Linked DNA regions of Homo sapiens: region 2 is reported to be linked to region 1. The links are microRNA targets in miRTarBase. Many come from high-throughput screens and were not tested one by one. Region 1 holds a microRNA gene; the other region holds the end of a gene's coding sequence.

The links. The annotated mature microRNA hsa-miR-500b-3p reads GCACCCAGGCAAGGAUUCUG and lies in region 1 at 2,202-2,221, shown strand. An mRNA with a match to its seed (bases 2 to 7 or 8) in the 3' UTR can be bound and repressed. Matches are read on the target gene's strand: a 7mer-m8 pairs with bases 2 to 8, a 7mer-A1 pairs with bases 2 to 7 and ends in A, and an 8mer does both.
Region 2: the mRNA of NLN is a reported target of hsa-miR-500b-3p. The part of its 3' UTR that is shown has no 7-base or 8-base seed match.

Annotation. Positions count from the first base shown.
Region 1 is chrX:50,008,521-50,011,652 of GRCh38, forward strand. MIR500B (microRNA 500b) reads left to right here and starts at 2,152; the gene lies at 2,152-2,230. All of the region lies in intron 3 of CLCN5 (chloride voltage-gated channel 5), which reads left to right. MIR362 (microRNA 362) reads left to right here and starts at 444; the gene lies at 444-508. It overlaps MIR501 (microRNA 501), which reads left to right and starts at 1,202; the gene lies at 1,202-1,285.
Region 2 is chr5:65,822,406-65,825,537 of GRCh38, reverse strand. It overlaps NLN (neurolysin), which reads right to left. Exons shown (of 13, transcript NM_020726.5): 13 at 1-2,757. The coding sequence ends at 2,623. Among named protein-coding and RNA genes, the nearest start is that of NLN, 100 kb to the right of the region's middle.

The sequences.
Region 1 (3,132 bases):
TTCGTGTAGGACAGAGCGTCTTTCTGTCCTCCTATCATCCATTCCACAAGTATTTATTGACCACCTTTTCTGTATATGATACTAAGTTGAGTAATGAGCATACAGTTGCTAACAAGACATGCTTGGTCCCTACCCTCATGGAGCTACAGTTGAGGAAGAAGAATGGAATTCCTCATCATCCATTACACCTACATGCCCTGAGAGTGGGTGGGCCACAGAGTGGACTTCTCATTACCACTGTCACCCACAAACATACACAAAAGCATGAATCTTCTCTGATCTCACATGGAACTCTGCAGGAGAAAAGATTCTCTGCCTTTCTGTAAAGTCCCTAGTAAATGACACTGTATATACATGAGAGTGAGACTTGGTTATAGCTACACATGCACACATACAAACACACAAAAAGGGCAGGTGTCAGAGCCTTCTTGTCTGCTCCCCCTCTTGAATCCTTGGAACCTAGGTGTGAGTGCTATTTCAGTGCAACACACCTATTCAAGGATTCAAAGAGGCTGAGCCTTGTCTACATGTAGAAGGACCAACAACCTGTCCCCTTCTTTCACATGTTTGTGTTTGCTATGCGGTGCCAGATCCTGCACTGGGTGGTGGAGATACAACGGTAAATAAGACAGCTAAGGTCCCTGGGCTCTGTAGAGGGCACCTGTGGGAGAATGAACTTCATCATTGCCCTGGACAAGCTTACACCTCTTTGAGAGCATGAGCTTTCTGTTTACTCCCAGCTTACTATGTGTCAGATACTGTAATGGGGAAACACACATTGGGTGATGAGACTTGCACAGCCAGTCTTTGCTCTCAGTGAGCTTATAGTTTACCAGAGAAACAGAAGAGAATGAAGTATCCCAATTTTCTGTACCATCTTCCAACATGTGCATGTACATGTGTGCCCACATACAGTTTGTCCCAACCTCCTTGCTAGGCCCCAAATACATCCAGCACCTGCAGACCCTCAAGTGTGATCTGAAAAAGATGCCACTCATATCTTTCATTCTAGTCTGAGGTTTTGTCTGAGAGGGCATGTCCATGTGGCCTTGTGCAGGGGGATGAATACATATGCTATCCCTGAGGAGAGGCATCTGTCTTAGCAAATGCACACAGAGATACTTTGCAGGAATGGGACCATGAAAGTCAAATATATATGGAGATATACATGCAGGGTGCAGGTGCCTGAGTCTTCTGCTCTGCTCTTCCTCTCTAATCCTTTGTCCCTGGGTGAGAGTGCTTTCTGAATGCAATGCACCCGGGCAAGGATTCTGAGAGGGTGAGCCCCCTCTGCGTGGAGAACAGAAGATCTGTATGTCACCTCTCAGCTGCTTGCTGCTTGCCTGCCTGCTCTCTGACCCTCATTCATTCTTTCCTTCCACAAATAATATGTATTGGGCACCATGATGGGCATTGGACACAGAGAAATGAACAAGGCAGACTTCGCCCCTGCCTTCCTGGATATTATAGCCTGAGAGGAGAATGGACTTTGTCACCACTCATTGCCCCTGCATATACTGAGGGTGAGTGGGCCACATAGGAACTTCTTATCTACCCTCTTCCCACCTTAACCCACCCATAAGTGTGAGTCTTCTCATTCCTGCTGTCACATTGATACTTGTTTCTTGTTTTTTCCTTCTTTCCTTCCTTCCTTCTTTTCTTTTTCTTTCTCTTTCTTTTCTTTCTTTCCTTCCTTTCCTTTCCTTTCTTTTCTTCTCTCTTTTCTTTTCTTTCTTTTTTGATGGAGTATTGCTCTGTTGCTCAGGCTGGAGTGCACTGGCACCATCACAGTTCACTGCAGCCTCAACCACCTGGGCTCAAGCGATCCTCCCACCTCAGCCTCTCAAATAGCTGGGACCACAGGCTTGTGCCACCATGCCTGGCTAATTTGTGTTTATTTTTTGTAGAGATGGGGTCTCACTATGTTGCCCAAGCTGGTCTCAAACTCCTAGGCTCAAGCAGTCCACCAGCCTTAGCCTCCCAAAGTGTTGGGATTATAGGTGTGAGCCACTGCACCCAGCCTGATACTTGTCGAAGCAACTTCTCTCTACTTTAGTTCAATGCAAGGTTAATGCACTAGGCAAGAACAGCAAGCCTTCTTGTTAGATGCACATGTGAGGTGTACAGGTACTGGAATCTCCTGTCCTGGTTCCCCCTCTCTAATCCTTGCTACCTGGGTGAGAGTGCTTTCTGAATGCAGTGCACCCAGGCAAGGATTCTGCAAGGGGGAGTGACATCTTCGCATAGGACAGAGCACTTCTACCTCCTCCTTCCATCCTTTCTATGACTATTTGTTGAGTACCTACCTACTCTATTGCAGGTGCTGTCCTGGGCAGTTGGCCCACAAGAGAATGAGCCATATCTGGTTCCCTACCTTCATGGAGTGTACAGTTCAGGGAGGAGAATGGACTCCTTCTCATTCATTATATCTGCATGTCCTGAGGGTGGGTGGGGTACAGGGTGGGTGGGGTACAGATACATGTTGGAGAATCTACTAAACCTCAGTACAATCACACATAAATACGCTGTGTGCAAGAGAAAGGGCCTGACTTGGTTACATCCACAGAGACATGTCCTCACAGAGTGGTCCCTCTGACCTGGTGCATCACTCACATTCTTTCAGCCTGTGTGCCAGTACTGCCTTGACTCACTGTCCCTTTTCAAGAATTCCAAGGGAAGAAGCCTTGTCTACACTTAAAAGGACAGAGCTTTTGCACATCAACTCTCCCTCCTCTTCCTTCCACAGATACTCAAGTGTCTATTAGACAGCAGGTATTATGTTCATCACCAAGGATATAGCAGGGATCAAAATGGACAGGTTGCTACCCTACATTCTGGTAGGGACTCATAAACACACTATACATAAATGTTGTGGATGAATAGGCCACTGTTCAAAAGAATGAAGTAGATCTATATGTTCCTTGTTACCCAGTCTGCATGCACAAGCATGTGCAGGTTCTGCTCAAGTGAAATTCTCAAATGTCCCCAATCCTTGTACACCAGACACACTCAGAGACATGGCCCTGCATGCAGAGAACCCCACCTACTGAAAGGGTAGGAGATGGAGCCTGTTGTGCTCTCCTCTCTCCCATTCTCAGCGTGCAAGCCAGTGAGCTTCCTTAACTCCCTTAT
Region 2 (3,132 bases), not on the chromosome of region 1:
CAGGTGGCAAAACGTCAAGACATTTCTCTTCTCTGCAGCATCGTAAAACTAAACCTTTAGGATCATGCCTACTATCCATTTGCATAAGATGTTGAAGATTTTATCCTTCACAACATAACAATGCCTAAAAAAAAAACAAAAAACCCGAAAGAGGCCTAAATCCCCTGGATCAATTACCAGGAGAGACCTTATTATATGTGGCTCAGTCCATAAATCTAAAGTGTACATTTGTCCAATTACAATTTACATAGTTATCCACCATTTCAAGCATGTCAGTGATATTCTCTGCTCTGATCTGGAAAAAAAGAACAACTAGACGGATGACCACACTAAAAAAAAAAAAGTTAAGTCCTTTCTTTTGAATTATGCTAGAGAATTTTTAAAAAGTCCTTTCTTTTAAATTATGCTAGATAATTCTTTGAGTATTAATTTTTTTTGAGACTGAATCTCACTCTGTCGTCCAGGCTGGAGTGCAATGGCATGATCTCAGCTCACTGCAACCTCCACCTCCCGGGTTCAAGCTATTCTCCTGCCTCAGCCTCCTAAGTAGCTGGGACTACAGGAACCCAACATCATGCCCAGCTTTTTGTATTTTTGTAGAGACAGGGTTTCACCATGTTGACCATGCTGGTCTTGAACTCTGACCTCAGGTGATCCTCCTGCCTTGGCCTCCCAAAGTGCTGGGATTACAGGCATGAGCCACTGCGCCCGGGCTGAGTTTTAATTTTGTGACTGCTCTTTGGTAGATTTTAAATATTAGAGGTAGGCCCTAAATAGAAAGAACACCATGGTGCTTTTGCTCTCATGCATTTCGGTTTTAACGTTAAAGTATGAAAGAAATATGAGTTCATTTTCATGGATAATAATATAACTTTATTGTGTGCAGCCTTTCCACACCAATTTAGTTTTTCTATGAAATAAGATTTCAAGTGGTAAAGTTACTGTTAAGGAGACACACTGGAAAAAGCTGAAGAGTTTTTTTGTCTGAAACTGAAAAACAGAAAAGTCTAGGGGGAAAGATGTGAGAAAACTACTATAGGCTACAAAGACCACAAAAACAGTTTTGGGGATTAGAAGGGGGTGACATTGAGTGAGTGTGTGGGAAGAGAAGGGCTGGGCAAATTATCTCAGAAGAGGGGGTAGTAGGATTTCAGGTGGATGTTTAAGGTATTTGCTTGGCAGATATAATCTAGGAATCTCCTAGCTCTTGCATTTCCTGCTATCTGTAACTTTATTATGTAGTATAATAATTTTTTATTTAGCACAAAGTTCATTTGGACTAGAGAATCGGAAGGTGCTAATTTTGTCCCCGGCTAGCAAAGTCATACCTGAGGTATGCGCTGGAAAACAACTGGAAGACCTAGGCAGGGGAATTCAAAGTTGTTTTTTTTTTAAATTTTATTATCCTGTCTTGGTTTCCTTATTGAATAGATTTCCACAGGAAAAATACTGTGAGTTTACTGATCTGCTGCAGAATTGGAATTTAGACTCACAATAAAGAGAGTTAAAGATAGATCCAAAGGTTCACTTAAAATAAAAATCACCAGACAGAACAGGCTACTGAAGAGTCTCTTCCCCGTGGTTAAGTTTCATCATACACATAAGGCTTTGGAGCAGCTGTCCTCAAATGCTTCTATCCAAAACCCACTCCTCTTCTGGAGTTTCTGAACCCTTTATGTTCCACATCCACCTCCTCTCTCTTCCCATGGCTCTCTACAGAGCCATTTGTGACATGTCTACCTGACACTTTTGGGGACGTGGTAAGTAAAAGAGGCAAAGTCCCTAACACTTATTAGAAACGTGAGAAGAGAAAAATGTGCTTGGACTTGCTTTAGTATTCTAATTGGCACACATGCCAAAAGACTAACGATCTTGTATGCTGAGGTGGAAATGAGCCTCTAATAAAAGCTACGAAATCCTCTAATACAAGATACAAAAACTTATACATTACACCAGTCTAGCTGAAACATAATTTTTTGATACTCTTTGACTGAACTTTAGACAGAAAAGACAAAACTGAAATGGAGGAACGTAATTTAAGTGTGGCAGAAAGTTGGGAATCATGCGGCCTGATATACAAAGATAAATGCATCACTGAGGCATATTCCCCTGGCCTTGAGGTATGCAGGCAAAGGAGAGGTCACACCTTCCTGGGAGACAAAGGATCAAAGTTGACACAGAGCTCCAAGAAAATATTTACCAGAAGAATGTGATGATTCATTTATCAGTCCAGAAATCCCAAGTACAAAACTTCAAGATACAAGAAGGATCAAATTATATCATATATATGATTCAATTTAAAAATTCTTAGCCCTCTTATATCATATTATCTAGATTATAATAGTAAAAAATCAAGTTACATTCATATGAAACTTTCATAAAAAGAAATCAAATCCAGTTTTATGAAATTTTATAGTACAATTACTTTCTAGTGGGTCTTTTCTTAGGTCACAGTATTTATAATTCCATTTACATCTTTATAATTTTTAAAATTAGAAAACAAAAGGATGTCAATAGAAATCTAAATTTTCACTTGCAAAACTCCCTTCAGTTTCCAGGCCAGTAACACATGGTGATGTCGACTTGTCCTCCAGACATGGACGGCTACCAAAGATCCCCAGTTCACGGAGCATGCAGGCCTCTACTCATTAGGAACGCTTTTTGGTTTGGCTCACGTTTCAAGAAATTGTGGAGCATGTCCATGCCGTCCAGAGATCCCCCAGGTTTCAGGATTAGGTTTCTGTATTTCATTCCAACCTAATAAAATAAAACATCATACCTAATAATTCATGGTTCTAGCAATTTTCCAAATCTCTAGATGCAAAAGAGGAGAGGGTAGGGGTGAAGGAAAAAGGACTTTAGCCTTACTCTGTCTAGATGTTTTCTCTTGCTCACAAACAGCTCTGTAGTATTTATTTATTTTGGTAGCTAAGAGATTTGGAGCTTAAAACTTCAGGTCTTCTACACTGTCCTTTATTATGGTCTTGTCTCCTTAGATTCTAAGCAGTGAGCTGACAACATGAACAAACAAACAAAATATAGCCAAATGGAATATACAACAGGTTCCTATTTGCTATGCTATCTCTCGTGATTTCAAAAGGCTTAGAAAGCAAGTGTTCACGAAGGCTACAA